2 separate regions of the Homo sapiens genome follow, and region 2 is linked to region 1. The links come from fine-mapping of genetic effects on gene expression. Tissue or cell type: whole blood. Region 1 holds a variant in brackets; the other region holds the start of a gene. All regions are shown on one strand. Distances are from middle to middle.

The links. PIP is the estimated chance that this variant, and not a neighbour inherited with it, causes the effect.
Region 2: KNDC1 starts here. The variant in region 1 is fine-mapped to the expression of KNDC1 in whole blood (INTERVAL, PIP above 0.99).

The regions. Positions count from the first base shown.
Region 1 is chr10:133,129,226-133,137,399 of GRCh38, forward strand. It overlaps ADGRA1 (adhesion G protein-coupled receptor A1), which reads left to right. Exons shown (of 7, transcript NM_001083909.3): 7 at 1-2,450. The coding sequence ends at 286. Among named protein-coding and RNA genes, the nearest start is that of KNDC1, 27 kb to the right of the region's middle. The variant C/G (reference allele first, on the strand shown) is at 4,214.
Region 2 is chr10:133,155,226-133,163,399 of GRCh38, forward strand. KNDC1 (kinase non-catalytic C-lobe domain containing 1) reads left to right here and starts at 4,994. Exons shown (of 30, transcript NM_152643.8): 1 at 4,994-5,344. The coding sequence starts at 5,243. RefSeq lists enhancers at 5,365-5,954, 5,955-6,545.

The DNA of each region.
Region 1 (8,174 bases):
ACACACGCTGGCCTGCTGCACCCAGGGCGACCCCTTCCCCATGGTCACCCAGCCCGAGGGCAGTGATGGGAGCCCTGCCCTCTACAGCTGCCCCACGCAGCCGGGCAGGGAGGCAGCGCTCGGGCCCGGCCACTTGGAGATGCTGCGGAGGACACAGTCCCTGCCCTTTGGTGGCCCCAGCCAGAACGGGCTGCCCAAGGGTAAATTGCTAGAAGGCCTGCCGTTTGGCACCGACGGGACCGGCAACATCCGAACGGGACCCTGGAAAAACGAAACTACTGTGTAGATGGGGGCAGAGGACACGGTGTTCCTGGAGGAGCTTCAGAGCAGAGTGGGGGGCCCATCTGCCACATGAGGTCACTGGGGGTACCGAAGTGACCCCGCCTTTCAGAAGCCGTTCACACCCCTGCCCCTTCCTTGTGATCACACCCCTGCCCCTTCCTTGTGATCACACCCCTGCCCCTTCCTTGTGATCACACCCCTGCCCCTTCCTTGTGAAAGACCTCAGCGGGGAAACGCTCCGGGCCACGCCCACTCCCCTTATCCCAATTCCGCGTGCTGGTCCCGCACACGGTCATCCGGTTTCTGTCCTGTGGTCTCCAGTCCTGGGGCACCCTAGAGGCAGAGCAGGGGATTCCATCAAAGGACCCACTGAGACCCCAGCATGGCCCTGCCCGAGATGCCCTGCTGCCCACGGAGTCCTGGCTTCCCCTGGTGTGGCCGGGCAGGGCCGAGATCGCAGGAGGGGGCTGCCCTGACCTTTCCCAGTGTTCAATGTGTGTGTCTTGCGTTCTACTCCGGGGGTGGCGGCGGCAGGTCTGTCCCCAGCATTCTCGCTCTGGGCAGAACCCTCGGGACCCTCCGCTGTCGTGTGTCTGAGCCACCCCTGCAGCTTCACAGGGCCCCTGCACACCTCTGCCCACTCAGTGTGCCCTGTCAGCCCTGTCCTTGTCGTAGCCCCAGCCCTGCAGGGCTGAGAGCACCACAGATGCTGGGGGCTGCTCTGGACTTTGGGGATGGCTGTCAGCCTCAGAGGGCCAATGGGGGGCTTTCACGGGCCCAAGGCTTGGGAAAATGCCCAGACATCCTTTAGTGAAGACTCGACTTCCAAAACCAGCCACCGCTGGGACTGGATTCCACTCCAGTATAGGCACTTAGCAACACGAAGGTTTATTCCAAAAAGAAAAGGGGCTGACAGACGGGAGATTCTCATGGACAAAATCCCTTTCCCTTTTTCTCGTCTCCATGAACATCTGGGTACCAAGCCCTGACTCAAAGGACAGATGTGGATGACAGCAAGACTTCTGTGAAAGCAAGTGGCCCGTCCCTAGGTGGGAGGGAGTCCAGAGGGTCATGGGTGTGAAACTGTGCACAGCTTTCCCTCCCTCCCTCTTCCTCCTTGTCTGTGACACATGTGCACCCACACACACACACACAAACACATGTGCATATCACACACATGCACACACACAAACACATGTGCATATCACACACGCGCACACACCCAAACACGTGCATATCACACACATGCACACACACAAACACGTGCATATCACACACATGCACACAAACGTGCATATCACACACACGCACACACACCCAAACACGTGCATATCACACACACGCACACACACAAACACGTGCATATCACACACAAACACACGTGCACACATACTTAACACACACTTGCACCTGCTGTGCACATGTGCACACACACGTAGTAGTGTGTTTTCCAGCCACCCACACACTGGGTTTGCATTGGAGATTGTTTCACCCTGCAAACGTCAACGTCAGCAGACTCGTCGGTGCGCTGTGCTATCCGGTTGGGAGGTCTCACCAGGAGCAGAGCCTCCCTAACGTGCACCTCCGAGAAGAGGGGTGTCGGGGAGTGTTCCCAGCACCTGCTCGGTGGAAGGGCTCTCCGGAGACTGGCACTCAGTATCTGAGTATGAGGAGCCTCACTTCCCGGGGTGTCGGTAAACTTGACCGTGACTCAGTAACCCACAGCGTGCTCCTCCCAGCAAACCCCGTGTGTCCTTACAGGTCGACCAGACGGGCCGTCGGAGGACCACCAGGTGGCTCTGCCTCTGCCTCACCTTCTCACCTGCTTCCATAGCTGATGTGAACCCGAATCCCCACGCTGTGCTGTGTACGCACTGTAGGTGCAGAACCGTCCACACAAAAATACAGTCTTGGCATTGTTTGTTCTTTGTGAGGCTGGTTAATAGCATCCCCGTGTGTTTTTCTCACCCTCGATGGGGTAGAGGGGCACCTGAATGTGTGGCCCCCGTCTGTGTCCTGGATCCTGGGGCAGGGCTGCTCTCCCTGGCCCCTGCAGCCCCTCATGAACTTTCCACCCTCAGTGCCCCCGGCTGAGCAGAGAGGCGTCCCACCATTCAACCAAAGAAAGTCAACATTGAACATTAAACCTCTGTGTGTTTCTATACTGACTTAGCCTCATGAGTCCACTTGGGACTGGTGTTGGGCCATATCCAATTGCACGTAACGTTTTGGAGCATAAACATCCACAGCCCAACCACCCTGAGGGGCTCCTGGCTCGGAGTCAGCTTCCACCAGACCATGAAGCCAGAGCCAGACCCTGCGTTCCGCACCTGACTTTCGTGCCACTTCCTTCCTTGTGTGTGCCCGTGTGTCTGCATGTCGGATGCAACGGAGCGTGGGTGCATGCCAGCCTGTGTGAGTGTGCTTGCCTGTGTGCCTCCGTGTCAGACGTGCTGGAGCGTGGGTGCATGCCGGCCTGTGCGAGTGTGCCCCTGTGCCTGCGTGTTGGATGCAATGGAGCGTGGGTGCATGCCGGCCTGTGTGAGTGTGCTTGCCCGTGTGCCTGCGTGTCAGACGCACTGGAGCGTGGGTGTATGCCGGCCTGTGCGAGTGTGCCCGTGTGCCTGCGTGTCGGATGCAATGGAGCGTGCGTGCATGCCGGCCTGTGTGAGCGTGCTTGCCCGTGTGCCTGTGTGTCGGATGCAATGGAGTGTGCGTGCATGCTGGCCTGTGCGAGTGTGCCTGTGTGCCTGTGTGTGTGTGAGTCCGTGTGCCTGCGTGTCGGATGCGATGGAGTGTGCGTGTATGCTGGCCTGTGTGAGTGTGCTTGCCTGTGTGCCTGTGTGTTTGTGAGTGGCTTGTGGGTTGTGTGGGTGTTGACGTGTTAGTGTGTGAGAGTGTGCGCCTGTGTGGTGTGTAGGTCCCTCTGTGGGAGTTGTGTGCACACATGCACGTGTGCTTGAGGGTAAGTGTGCATGTGTGTGCATGCTCTTTGGAGGAACACTGTGAGGCGGCCCCTCCGCCCTGTCTCCGTGCGGGTGTGTAACTACCACACGGCAACACTGTGGTGACTTTAGTCAGCTTAAAGGACTAGGAAGCAGAAGCTGCCTGTGCCTCCAGACCCTGACAGTTCTTCTCTGGAGCAGTCCTAGCTGAGGAGGCCTCCAGTCCTGGGAGACACACAGTGGCATCTGCCGCGTCGCCCACGAAGGCCCCAGACAGGGCTCAGATCTGGTCGGCCTGCTCTGTCTCTGAATGAGCCACCCCTGCAGGGGCTTTGGGCAGCTGAGGAGCCCCCACTGGTTCTGCGGGGAAGGGGCTGGGTTGGGGCCCGCACGTTCCACCTGCCTGAGCAGGACTGAGGAGGGATGCAGGCTGAATGGGAGCACTGGGCCCCTGGGAGGGCCTTGGCAGAAGGCAGCTCAGCAGCCACACGCTAGGCTGCAGTGTCGCCCATCAGTGACAGCAGCTGCAGGAAGCCTGTCTAGGGACCCTGGAAGGAGCTCAGGGCCCTGCACTGATGTGGTGAATGCCCCCCATGTGCAGAGACTGGCTGCAACGGGCACTTCCACACCTACCCAGTGCCCAGATGGTGCCTGACCGGTCCTGCCACTTGCTCCCTGACCCTTGGTGCTTGCATTTCTCGGGGGACGCTGTCGGGACCAGCATTGGCCTGAGCTGGAACAGTGGGTGTGTTCACTGTGCGGGGACTGTGGACCCTGCTCCTCCACGTCTCACGTGGACCCTGCTCCTCCGTGTCTCACGTGGACCCTGCTCCTCCGTGTCTCACGTGGACCCTGCTCCTCCGTGTCTCACGTGGATCCTGCTCCTCTGTGTCTCACTTCATCACGCTTCCCTTCCACTGCACTGCCAGGGTTTGTACCTGAGCCTAGAGGCTTCTGCAGAGCCTTTACTGCACAGGCACCTTCGG[C/G]CAGAAATTCTGCCTGTTGTATTCAAGACCAAGGACTGTTCTGTAGCCTTTGAGGTGGGTGGGGTGGGGGTACCTTGGGCAGATGGAGGCCGGCCCTGTGTCTGCAGGGGCAGCGTGTGCCCAGGGAGGCAGGGGACGGGGTAGGGGGAGGGAAAGGGTGAGCACCCCGTGAGGACAGACAAAGTGCTGTGAGGCCAGGTCAACGGTGGGGTGGAGGCGGGGCCTGGTGGGCATCTGGGGAGGCTACTGGGCACAGGGACAGAGAAGCCAATTCGGAGGGTCCCTGGGGCCAAGTCTGAGCAGGCATCTGAGTGCTGTGGTTGTTCAGGGCAGGCGGAGCAGGAGGGGCATAGGAGGGCCTGGCACACGTGAGAGGCCTGTCCCTCGGGCCACAGCTAGAAGATCAGTGTCTCCCAGTGAGACAGGTCAGGCTGCAAGTGGGCTCAGCAGCAAGACAAGCCCTTCATGCCCGCCGTGCTGGCTCCTCTGGGCCTGGAGGGAGGGCTGCTGGGTGAGCTGGGGCCCACCAGGGCAACTCCCAACACTGGCTGTCCAGGCCTCCTGGGGGCTGCAGGGCCAGTGCCTGAGCACAGACGTGGCTGCCCACAGACGGTCCTGCAAGGACTCAGGACCCCAGACCCCAGGCTGCATCCCCCCGGCCACAGATCTGCAGGCGGCCGACTTCCAGAGGACAAGCAGCACCGCTCAGGCCCAAGTGGGCGCCGACTTGGACCTCACACCTCTGTCCTGTGTCCCAGGAAATGACTGGGGTTGCCAGGGCCTGCCTTTCCTTCCCACTCCCATCCCAGGACGTGGGTACTGGGAAAACCACTGTTAAGAGGACACTCTTAAACTCACTCTAATTACTTCTTTTCTACATAAATATCAACAACTTCCCCTGTAATCGCAACAGACACCTTGCTCCCTACTCACAACTCCAACCACACCCAACATAGCCCTTCAGGGAGGCCTGCAGGTCAGAACCGGCAGCAGAGGCACCCAGAGCTCAAGTCCCTCCCTGCCAGCCGCCCCCCAGCCTCTCCCAGACAGGGTCACTGAACAAGCCACAGAGTGGTGCAGGGCTGACATCGGCCAGGGACAAAGCAGGTGAGTACCCATGTCTGCGCCCTGGCTCAGAGATTACTCCAAGTCCAGGTCCTAGAGGGGTGAATACCCCTGGTGTGGGATTGGCTGGTTTAGTACTCATGTCTCTGTCATGGTCCAGAAAGTACCCTTGGTCTAGGTCCTAGTGGAGTGAGTACCCTGGTGAGGGATAGCCTGGGTTAGTACCCATGTCTCTGCCCTGGTTCGGAGAGTACTCGTGGCCCACGTCTTCGTGGAGTGAGGAACTCTGGCACGTAGTGCCTCCCTGTTAGGGTTAATGCTCGTATTGGATTCATAGTGAGCTGTGTTGCTGGGTAAAATACTCGAGGTGACAGTAGCAGTCTGTGCTGCTGTAGGATGAGGACACATTTTCTGGGCTACTTTCTTGGTGCCACTGGTATGGGCTGAAATTTCACCCTCCGTGTGCCCAGGTGGCGGCGGTGGTGGTGCGTTTGCATGTGGTGGGCTGGAGCTGCGCCCGTGTGTTCTTCTGTGTGTTTGGGAGGCTGAGTTCTCGTGGTCTGAGTCGTCTCAATTGAGTACTAGGTCCTGTGTCACGTGGGCTGTGTATCTGTGGTCTGTGTCTCCTGGTAAACACTGTTTAAAATGAGTTCCGGGGTCTCTGCCTCCAAGGGAGTGCGGGACGCTGGCGTGGGCTGAGCTGCCAGGGTAAAGAATCCACTGCAGCACCTGTGGCTTCAGTGCCTCGGTGGGGTGGGGCCGATGGCCTGCAGGTGAGCAGTGTTAAAGGAAACATGGTTCAATGATGCTTGTTAAAACACGGCAGACTTCATTCGGGGCCACTGGGTCCCTGGGTGTGAGACAGCCTGGGCTGGTACCATAGGGGAGCTGGTCTCCAGGTCCCTGTTGGGGGGGTCTGGTCTCTGGGTCCCTGTGGGGGGGGTCTGGTCTCTGGGTCCCTGTGGTGGGGGGGGGTCTCTGGGTCCCTGTGGGGGCGGCTGGTCTCTGGGTCCCTGTGGGGGTGTCTGGTCTCTGGGTCCCTGTGGTGGGGGGGGTCTCTGGGTCCCTGTTGGGGGGTCTGGTCTCTGGGTCCCTGTAGGGGTTCTGGTCGCTGGGTCCCTGTAGGCGGGTCTGGTCTCTGGGTCCCTGTGGGGGGGTTCTGGTCTCTGGGTCCCTGTGGTGGGGGGGGGGTCTCTGGGTCCCTGTTGGGGGGTCTGGTCTCTGGGTCCCTGTGGGGGCGGCTGGTCTCTGGGTCCCTGTGGTGGGGGGGGTCTCTGGGTCCCTGTTGGGGGGTCTGGTCTCTGGGTCCCTGTGGGGGCGGCTGGTCTCTGGGTCCCTGTGGTGGGTCTGGTCTCTGGGTCCCTGTGGGGGGGTTCTGGTCTCTGGGTCCCTGTGGGGGCAGCTGGTCTCTGGGTCCCTGTGGGGGTTTCTGGTCTCTGGGTCCCTGTGGGGGGGTCTGGTCTCTGGGTCCCTGTGGTGGGGGGGGTCTCTGGGTCCCTGTGGGGGGGTCTGGTCTCTGGGTACCTGTGGGGGCAGCTGGTCTCTGGGTCCCTGTGGGGGGGTTCTGGTCTCTGGGTCCCTGTGGGGGCGGCTTGTCTCTGGGTCTCTGTGGGGGGGTCTGGTCTCTGGGTCCCTGTGGAGGCGGCTGGTCTCTGGGTCCCTGTAGGGGTTCTGGTCTCTGGGTCCCTGTGGGCGGGTCTGGTCTCTGGGTCTGTTGGGGGGGTCTGGTCTCTGGGTCCCTGTGGGGGGGGTCTGGTCTCTGGGTCCCTGTGGTGGGGGGGGGTCTCTGGGTCCCTGTGGGGGCGGCTGGTCTCTGGGTCCCTGTGGGGGTGTCTGGTCTCTGGGTCCCTGTGGTGGGGGGGGTCTCTGGGTCCCTGTTGGGGGGTCTGGTCTCTGGGTCCCTGTAGGGGTTCTGGTCGCTGGGTCCCTGTAGGCGGGTCTGGTCTCTGGGTCCCTGTGGGGGGGTTCTGGTCTCTGGGTCCCTGTGGGGGTGTCTGGTCTCTGGGTCCCTGTGGTGGGGGGGGTCTCTGGGTCCCTGTTGGGGGGTCTGGTCTCTGGGTCCCTGTAGGGGTTCTGGTCTCTGGGTCCCTGTGGGCGGGTCTGGTCTCTGGGTCCCTTTGGGGGGGTCCTGGTCTCTGGGTCCCTGTGGGGGCGGCTGGTCTCTGGGTCCCTGTGGGGGGTTCTGGTCTCTGGGTCCCTGTGGGGGCGGCTGATCTCTGGGTCCCTGTGGGGGGGTCTGGTCTCTGGGTCCCTGTTGGGGGGTCTGGTCTCTGGGTCTCTGTGGGGGTTCTGGTCTCTGGGTCCCTGGGGGGGCGGCTGGTCTCTGGGTCCCTGTGGGGGGTTCTGGTCTCTGGGTCCCTGTGGGGGCGGCTGGTCTCTGGGTCTCTGTGGGGGGGTCTGGTCTCTGGGTCCCTGTGGGCGGGTCTGGTCTCTGGGTCCCTGTGGAGGCGGCTGGTCTCTGGGTCCCTGTGGGCGGGTCTGGTCTCTGGGTCCCTGTTGGGGGGTCTGGTCTCTGGGTCCCTGTGGGGGGGTTCTGGTCTCTGGGTCCCTGTGGGGGCAACTGGTCTCTGGGTCCCTGTGAGAGGTTCTGGTCTCTGGGTCCCTGTGGGGGGGTCTGGTCTCTGGGTCCCTGTGGGGGGATCTGGTCTCTGGGTCCCTGTGGTGGGGGGGGTCTCTGGGTCCCTGTGGGGGGGTCTGGTCTCTGGGTACCTGTGGGGGCAGCTGGTCTCTGGGTCCCTGTGGGGGGGTTCTGGTCTCTGGGTCCCTGTGGGGGCGGCTTGTCTCTGGGTCTCTGTGGGGGGGTCTGGTCTCTGGGTCCCTGTGGAGGCGGCTGGTCTCTGGGTCCCTGTAGGGGTTCTGGTCTCTGGGTCCCTGTGGGCGGGTCTGGTCTCTGGGT
Region 2 (8,174 bases), 26 kb after region 1:
AGAAACAGACTCACACCCGGGCACATTCGACCCAGCAGAAGCCAGGCTGGCAAAACGGAGGGTGAAGGGCACCTTCCCAACACCCGCCCCCGTGCCCGGCCATCGCCAGTGCGGGGAAAACAGGAACTTCATACATGCATAACCTAAGACCCGGCAACTCCACTCTAAAGATAGGCCAAACAGAAACACAGGCACCTGAAGAAAAGATGCCCCCGTAGCTTCGTTCCTAAGGCTGCAAATTGTAGAAGCCACCTGAGTGCCCACCAGCGCAGAAAGAGAACCTCCACTGTGGGGTATTGACGTCGTTGGAAAGAGAACCTCAACTGTGGGGTATTGACGTCATTGGAAAGAGAGCCTCAACTGTGGAGTATTGACGTCATTGGAAAGAGAACCTCAACTGTGGGGTATTGACGTCATTTGAAAGAGAACCTCAACTGTGGGGTATTGACGTCGTTGGAAAGAGAACCTCCACTGTGGGGTATTGACGTCGTTGGAAAGAGAACCTCCACTGTGGGGTATTGACGTCGTTGGAAAGAGAACCTCCACTGTGGGGTATTGACGTCGTTGGAAAGAGAACCTCCACTGTGGGGTATTGACGTCGTTGGAAAGAGAACCTCCACTGTGGGGTATTGACGTCGTTGGAAAGAGAACCTCCACTGTGGGGTATTGACGTCGTTGGAAAGAGAACCTCCACTGTGGGGTATTGACGTCGTTGGAAAGAGAACCTCCACTGTGGGGTATTGACGTCGTTGGAAAGAGAACCTCCACTGTGGGGTATTGACGTCGTTGGAAAGAGAACCTCCACTGTGGGGTATTGACGTCGTTGGAAAGAGAACCTCCACTGTGGGGTATTGACGTCGTTGGAAAGAGAACCTCAATTGTGGGGTATTGACGTCATTGGAAAGAGAGCCTCAACTGTGGAGTATTGATGTCATTGGAAAGAGAACCTCAACTGTGGAGTATTGCCATCATTGGAAAGAGAACCTCAACTGTGGGGTATTGACGTCGTTGGAAAGAGAACCTCAACTGTGGGGTATTGACGTCGTTGGAAAGAGAACCTCAACTGTGGGGTATTGATGTCGTTGGAAAGAGAACCTCCACTGTGGGGTATTGACGTAATTGGAAAGAGAACCTCAACTGTGGGGTATTGATGTCGTTGGAAAGAGAACCTCCACTGTGGGGTATTGACGTCATTGGAAAGAGAACCTCCACTGTGGGGTATTGACGTCATTGGAAAGAGAACCTCCACTGTGGCGTATTGACGTCGTTGGAAAGAGAATCTCCACTGTGGGGTATTGACGTCGTTGGAAAGAGAACCTCCACTGTGGGGTATTGATGTAATTTAATACAATTCAGTAACAATAATCAATAAATTACTACTACCCATAACAACATGGTTGAATCTCAGAGACACTGAGGAAAAATGCACGCACACACACACAAATACACACACACATACACACACACAAATAAACACACACACAAATACACACACATAGACACAAATACACACACATACACAAATACACACACACGAATACACACACAAATACACACACATACACAAATACACACAAATACACAAATACACACACATACACACAAATACACACACATACACACAAATACACATACACATACACACAGACACAGAAATACACACACATACACAAATACACACACAAATACACATACACACATACACACACAAATATACACACACATCCACACAAATACACATACACATACAGACACAGAAATACCCACACATACGCACACATATACACACAAATACACACACGCACAGAGGGACGGGGGTTCCGTCTGCTCCCAGCCGCATTGGTTCCCCCGTGGGGTGAGCCTGGCAGGACAGGGCCAGCCCAGCGCCCAGAGACAAAGTGAGGAGACCGTGTTTCCGCCAGAGCCACAGGGCAGCTCCCCGCAGAAGCCAGTCGTGGTCCACGGTTCCCGCGTGCCGGCTCCCAATCTCTAACAGGAGCACCGCCATTTACTTCCACATTTCCTTTTTTTCTTTACTAAATATCTGATTTATTAAAATTTACATGTGTATTTGTTGCAAAGTGTGATGAGGAGCCAACAGAAACTCGGGCATAAAAATAATTCATCGTCAGATACAATCTGGGCAAAAACCAGATGGCTATGATGCGTCTGAGGAAAAATGTCAGCACGAAGATCTCGGACTGTTAGAGAAGAATGTGTTTACGAATTCTTTAAACGACTGACAGTAGGTATCAAAACCATTTTGGCATTTAGCTTCCTAGATACATTTACAGGAGTGACTAACAATTTTACTTCAAAATGTGAGTATTTACATCACACCAGAAATGACATTATTTGCCATCATTTACATGTCTGGATTTTTTAAGAAACCTGGATGTTGACGTCAACATGTGTGAGTGATTTGGCAGCTTTTCAAAATTGTTTTAGGGAAAACGAGAGCCAAGGCCCTGAAGACCCCTGCTCCACCCGCCTCAGCACGCAGCCCAGTCCAGCTGAGCGCCGACTGTGGGAGACCGAGTGAGAAGGACAAGGCCGATCCTGACAGCGTCCGGGTGTGACAAGGGCCCGGTAACCCCCTCGGAGCAAGGTCTCAGGAGAAGCATCTGGGAGTCCTACCCTGGGCCCCTCATGGAGGAGGGAGGGTGGGCAGGGCCTGGGCAGGGAGGGAGGAACCAGGTTCCTCACTCCAGCCAGGAGCCACAGTTCAGGCTGTTGCCTCTAGCAGAGGGGAACGTCTGGTGGGAAAGGGCAGTGGGGTGGGGCAGAGGATGGGTAGAGGCCATGGAAGAGTTGGAAGAGGACGAAAGTGCCACCAAGTCATGGCCCTGGACCACGGACCTGATCGTGCAGCTGGGAAGCCCCTCAGAATTCCGACACCACCACAAGCATCCTCGGGAGGAAGCTGTGCCAGCACATGCTGGGCACACAGGGCTGGCACCGAGAGGCAGGAGGGCTTGATGAGGAGGCCGTTCCTTGTGGCTCACGGAGGGCTCTTGGCCGTTTCCGCGTGGCACCCAGAAGCTGCTCACCAGCTCTAGAAGACGTGGGGCGATGAATCCAGACCCTGGAGGAACTGCGCCCTCGTCCAGCATAACTGAGGTGCCAGGACACAGGACCGACATCGCACCCTCCACTTGGGTCAAAGCTTTATCACTGCAGGCGAGTGTGCGGGCGCCCGGGACAACTCGCAAAACGTCTGGAAGTTCCCACCACTCCCCAGAACAACAGAGACCAAAGCCCACAAATCTTTAAAGGAAAGCAGCAGGTGCGTAAAAGAAAGAGCCTGCGGCCCCTGCCCGAGGCCCCTCCCCACGTGCCCAGCCCTGAGCAGCAGCAGCGCTGAGTGACCCAGGTGTGGGAAATGCCTGCTGAGGGGTTTTAGGCCGCAACAGCCGAAGCTGACACGGCCGACTCCAGGAGCCTGTGAGTTCTGCATTTTACCAACCGCATGCACGTCTTTCCAGGAGTGCTTGCCCTATGGCTGCCCCCCAAATTATGGGGTTACCTTTGCCCCCTATTCAGTGTCTATATCCTCACCCCAAGCCCGTGAGGTGACCTGGGCACTCGGTGACAAAGTCCTGTGCTTGTGGGGTCCCTGGTGCCTTCCCTTTGGGGTCACGTCAGCCCGGCGTTCCCCCGGAGGCACAAGTCTGGGTGGCAGCTGAGAGGCGTCAGGGGCACATCCAGACCTGACAAAGGAGGCGGCCCCAGCCCTGCAGCAGAGGGCCCAGGAGCCCAGGGGCTCAGCTCCAATGTCCAGGTCTGAGCACCAGGGTGCAGCGGGATCAGGCTCCTGGAGCAGAGTCTGCCTGCCACTTCCGCCTCCTTCCAAGACAGGGACTGGGGCGCTGCAGGCCCTGTGGGGCCCACAGAGAGAGAGCTCAGGGACAGCTGGCTGAGGCCACCCTCTGTGAGACTCCTCCTCTCCAGCTCCAGCCCACTCCACCTTGGCTTGCTGCCCAAGCTTCCAAACACCCAAGGATGGGGGAGGCTGCACCTGACTGCTGACTCGGTGGACCAGGGTGGGCCCCAGGGTGGGCATTTTCAATAAGGTGGGGCTGCCTGGCTGGACGCAGGGAGTCTGCCCAGCACCTGCCCCACTCCCAGCCTCCGGCTTCAGTGCCCACCTGGCTCCCGGGGAGCTGAGCCCCTGAACTCCCTGCCAGGCCAGAGTGACAGCCCGGGTGACCGACCAGGGGACAGAGTGCTGGGAATTCACGTCCCTGAACACACTGCACCCTCCCACTCTGCGGTCAAAAGCCCTGCTGCTCCTTCAAGCCAGGAGCATGGATTAAGTACCTACTGTGTGCCTGGCCAGCCACACGGACGGGGAGCTGACAGCCGGGCCCTGAAGCCGCCCTCTCTCCTGTGGGAGTTCTGGGGGTGGCCGGGGAAGGTGAGATTCTCCTCCACCCTCCCTGCCTCTTGGCCGAGCTTGGGGCTATCCTGGCTCTTCTGACCGCGGCACTACCGTGGGCCGGGGTCACCCTGGCGCTGAAGAAAGCCCCGGGGGGCCTTTGGGGCAGGAAGAGGTCAAGAGCCCCAGGACCCCCCAGGGTCCCCCAGGACCGGGGAGGGTCGGGTGCCCAGTGGGTCTCTCCGATGCCTCCAGGTGGGGATGAGGCAGCGTTATTGCCCCACCCCCAACATCCCCGGGCCTCCGAAAGACCCTCGCTCAGGAGAGACCCCGGCCCAGCGACCGCCCCGCCCCCCACCCCGGGCCCCGCCCCCCACCCCGGGCCCCGCCCGGCCCTGCCCAACGCCGCTGCAGAGGCCACCCCGGGACTGCGGCAGCCCCGCCCGGCAGCAGCGGGGGTGGGACGGGGGCGGCGGGAGCCGGCGAGGGGGTCTGCCCGTCCGAGCTTTCCTGGGCGCCGGCTCCGCCCCTCGACCCTTGGGGCCCAGGTGGGGCGCAGACCCCGTGGCTCCCCGCGGAGGCCACACGCCTGGCTCCGCCCCCGGTGCCTCCCCCAGGAAGGAGCGACGTTCCCTAGGCGCCGGGTCCGGACAGCGCCGCGCAGCCCCCGCGCACCCCGCGCCCCCCGCGCCCCCCGGGCCCGCCCCGTATCCCTGACCGCGTCCCCTGGAGACACTGCGGCAGCGGCGGGCGGGCGGGGGCGGGCGAGGGCCGGGCGCGTCTCCATGGAGCCAGGGCGCGCGTAGCCGAGCCCAGCCCAGCCCAGCCGGAGGCCCCGGGGGCGGTGCGCGGCGCGGCCGCAGGATGCAGGCCATGGACCCGGCCGCGGCGGATCTTTACGAGGAGGACGGCAAAGACCTGGACTTCTACGACTTCGAGCCGCTGCCCACCCTCCCCGAGGACGAGGTGAGCCCCCGGCCCCACTGGGGGGCCCCTTCCGCCGCCGAGGGGTCCGCGGAGAGCGCCCGGGGGGAGGACCCGGGAGGGGCTGTGAGCTCCCGCCTCCCCAGGCGCCCTCCATGGCCGAGGGGTTCCCACCGCCGTTCTCAGCCCCCGCGTTAGGATTTTCACCCGGAGGGGACAGCACCCCCGAATGCGCACGGGACGGCGGCGGGTGGGCAGCCCCTGCAGAAGTTGGTGCGCGGTAGCTCCTGGTGGAAACCCTGGCGGGACAGTGTGGGGGCAGCAAGGAGGACGGAGGGGGGTCTGCTTACTCCCTGCCGGGCCCCAGGAGGCCAGCGGGGTGCAGAGCAGCAGAGTCCAATCAGGCGCCGCTCAGGAGCTGGGGGATGAGGTCCCCGGAGCTGAGGTTCAGGAGCGGGGGGTGGGGGGAGCGCTGGATGACTGCCCCCCGAGACTGAGAGCTGCTTCCTGCTCTCTGGTTTTCCGGGCCTTCACCCAAGACCCCCCTACCCCGCAAGGTGCAGAGGGGCTCTGCCTGCCATCTGCATACCCTGGCGCTTCTGCTCATGGACCGCCCACCCTACAGCACCGGCTGCCCAGACGCCACCTTGGCTGGGTCTGACCCTGTAGCTCAGCTCTGGCTTGGCTGGGATGGAGTGGACAAGCCAGGCCCGGAAGCATGAGAGGTGGCCCCCAGGGGATACAGCAGCTCCCAGAGGGACCCTCACCCTCCAGGGATCCGAGATCTGCCAAACCTCCAACAGGCAAGAGCCCAGACGCTGGGCGCCTGCGTCTCCGGGTGACAGCGTCGTCACCTGCAGCCATTAGTGGGATGTTGTGGCGCCCTCTCTTTAAAGCCGGCCAAGTAAGCCTGGAGCAGGGAATCCCGGCTGCAGCAGCCGCGGGCCTGACCCCCTCGCAGTCCCCACCTGCTGCCCCAGGGGAGTGGGCTCTGAAGGGACCGGGAGTTTCTGCTGTGGAAGCACCGTCCTTCTGGGAAGGTTCAGCCCCAGGAGGCCCTCGGCCCAGCCACCTAGAAACAGCTGAGGCTGTGCGGGGGTTGGCGATGCCCCCGCCCCCACCATGGCCTGGATTCGGTGCAGTTGAAGGCTGCAGAGAGGAGCAGCCAGGGGAGGCAATAAAGCTTCCAAGATCACCTCGGCTCTGACCGAGAGGGAGGGGCAGCCCGCAGCCTTCAGAAACGCCCCAGGACACATCCCAGGGTATCTGTTAGGAGGCGGCCCTGAGGACGCAGCTCTTCCCACAGCTCCTTCGTGCATCAGAGGCCTGAGCCTTGAGGGCCTCCCCGCTCCGCACACGGAGGCAGCAGCCGGTGCCACGCACACAACACGCCGCGCCAGGCGCGAGCCCACTTGGAGCCACAGGCTGTCTTTCTGCACACTCCCCACTCCCGCTCCCCACCCCCACGCACACACCAGTGTCCTCGGGCCGGCCGGACAGCTCCCGGCCGGCACAGTACTGGGGTGGGTGGCTCCATCCTGTGACGTCCACCAAGGCCTCCAGGTGAACTGTCATCCCACCGAGTTTGCAGCGTGCAGTGGGAACGTTCAGGTGGGCCCTTCGCAGACACTCCTGGAAAGCATCGGGTGGTCCCTGGCCCAACCCTGTGCCCAGTACTGAGCCCAACACACCCCATGTCTCAGAATTCCCCTGGCGTTCAGACTCTGCTTCCCACACGTGTTTGGCTTGGAAGGTTCTGAAATCTCCATCGGGGCACCTGACTTGCATGGGAAAACCGTCCTGGGTGAGGTGAGGGCACGGTGAGGTTGCATCATCATCCCAGAATGCCGGAAGGCCAAGGGTGCAGGGCAGCTGCCGGGAAAGCACGGTGGCGCCAGGCCCAGGACATATGCAGGCTTCATAAGATGTAGGAACTCACTCATTCTACAGCTAATTATAATGGCTGGCTCCATGATGGGGTCAAGAAATAGACCCCTATGGACACCCACCGGAGCCCCTGGAATGTCCCTCCCTTGACATGGTCCCAAAGAAAATCCAAATGGCTGCTGAACATGTGAAAAGATGTTTGCTCATTGCAATCAGGAAAATGCAAAATACACCCCCACGAATGCCTTCCCAAGACCGCCAGGCTGGCAAGAACTGAAGAGCGGACAGCGGCTTGTGCTGGCAAGGACGGCGCAGCAGCTCTCCCTCGCGCCAGTGGGAGGACAAATGGAGCAGCCTCTTTGGAAAACAGCCCAGCATTCGCTGGTGAAGTAGAAGGCACCAGTGCCCTGTGTCCCAGCAACTTCACTATGGTGTGGGCCCCAGAGACACGTGGCCGTGCGTGTGTGAGAACACTCTCAGCTGGAACCTACCAGAGCATCAGCAAGTGGGCCAGCAGGTCCTGGAGGAAGTGACCAGGTTGGATCCCAGTACAGGCAAAGAACCACCAGTACACGATAGACAGGGAGATGTTCTGTGGGGGTGATGCAAGGAGGGCTTCCTGGAGGTGTCCTGCCCGGGATTCCCATGAGATTTCAGTCACTGTGGATGGGGGTATGGGATCTGAGGCAGAACAGTGCAATCCAGGCAGAACAGCGGCTGCAGAAGAGGCACACAGTCCAGGCGGCTGGAGTCGATGGATGGGCAATGCTGGCTGCCCCATGGGAATTCAGATGAGACGAAGAGGGTGCACCGGTTTGGGTGCCAGAGCAGGACGTGTCCCGGGTCCCTGAGAGGCAGGCAGCACTATCATCCCTCCCAGAGTTCAGCAACTGCCTCCCAGAACCTCCTGTGTGCCGGTGTCAGGCTGGGCTCAGAATCTGAGGCTGGACAGGATGCAGTTGCTCCCTGGAGGGGCACACAGCTG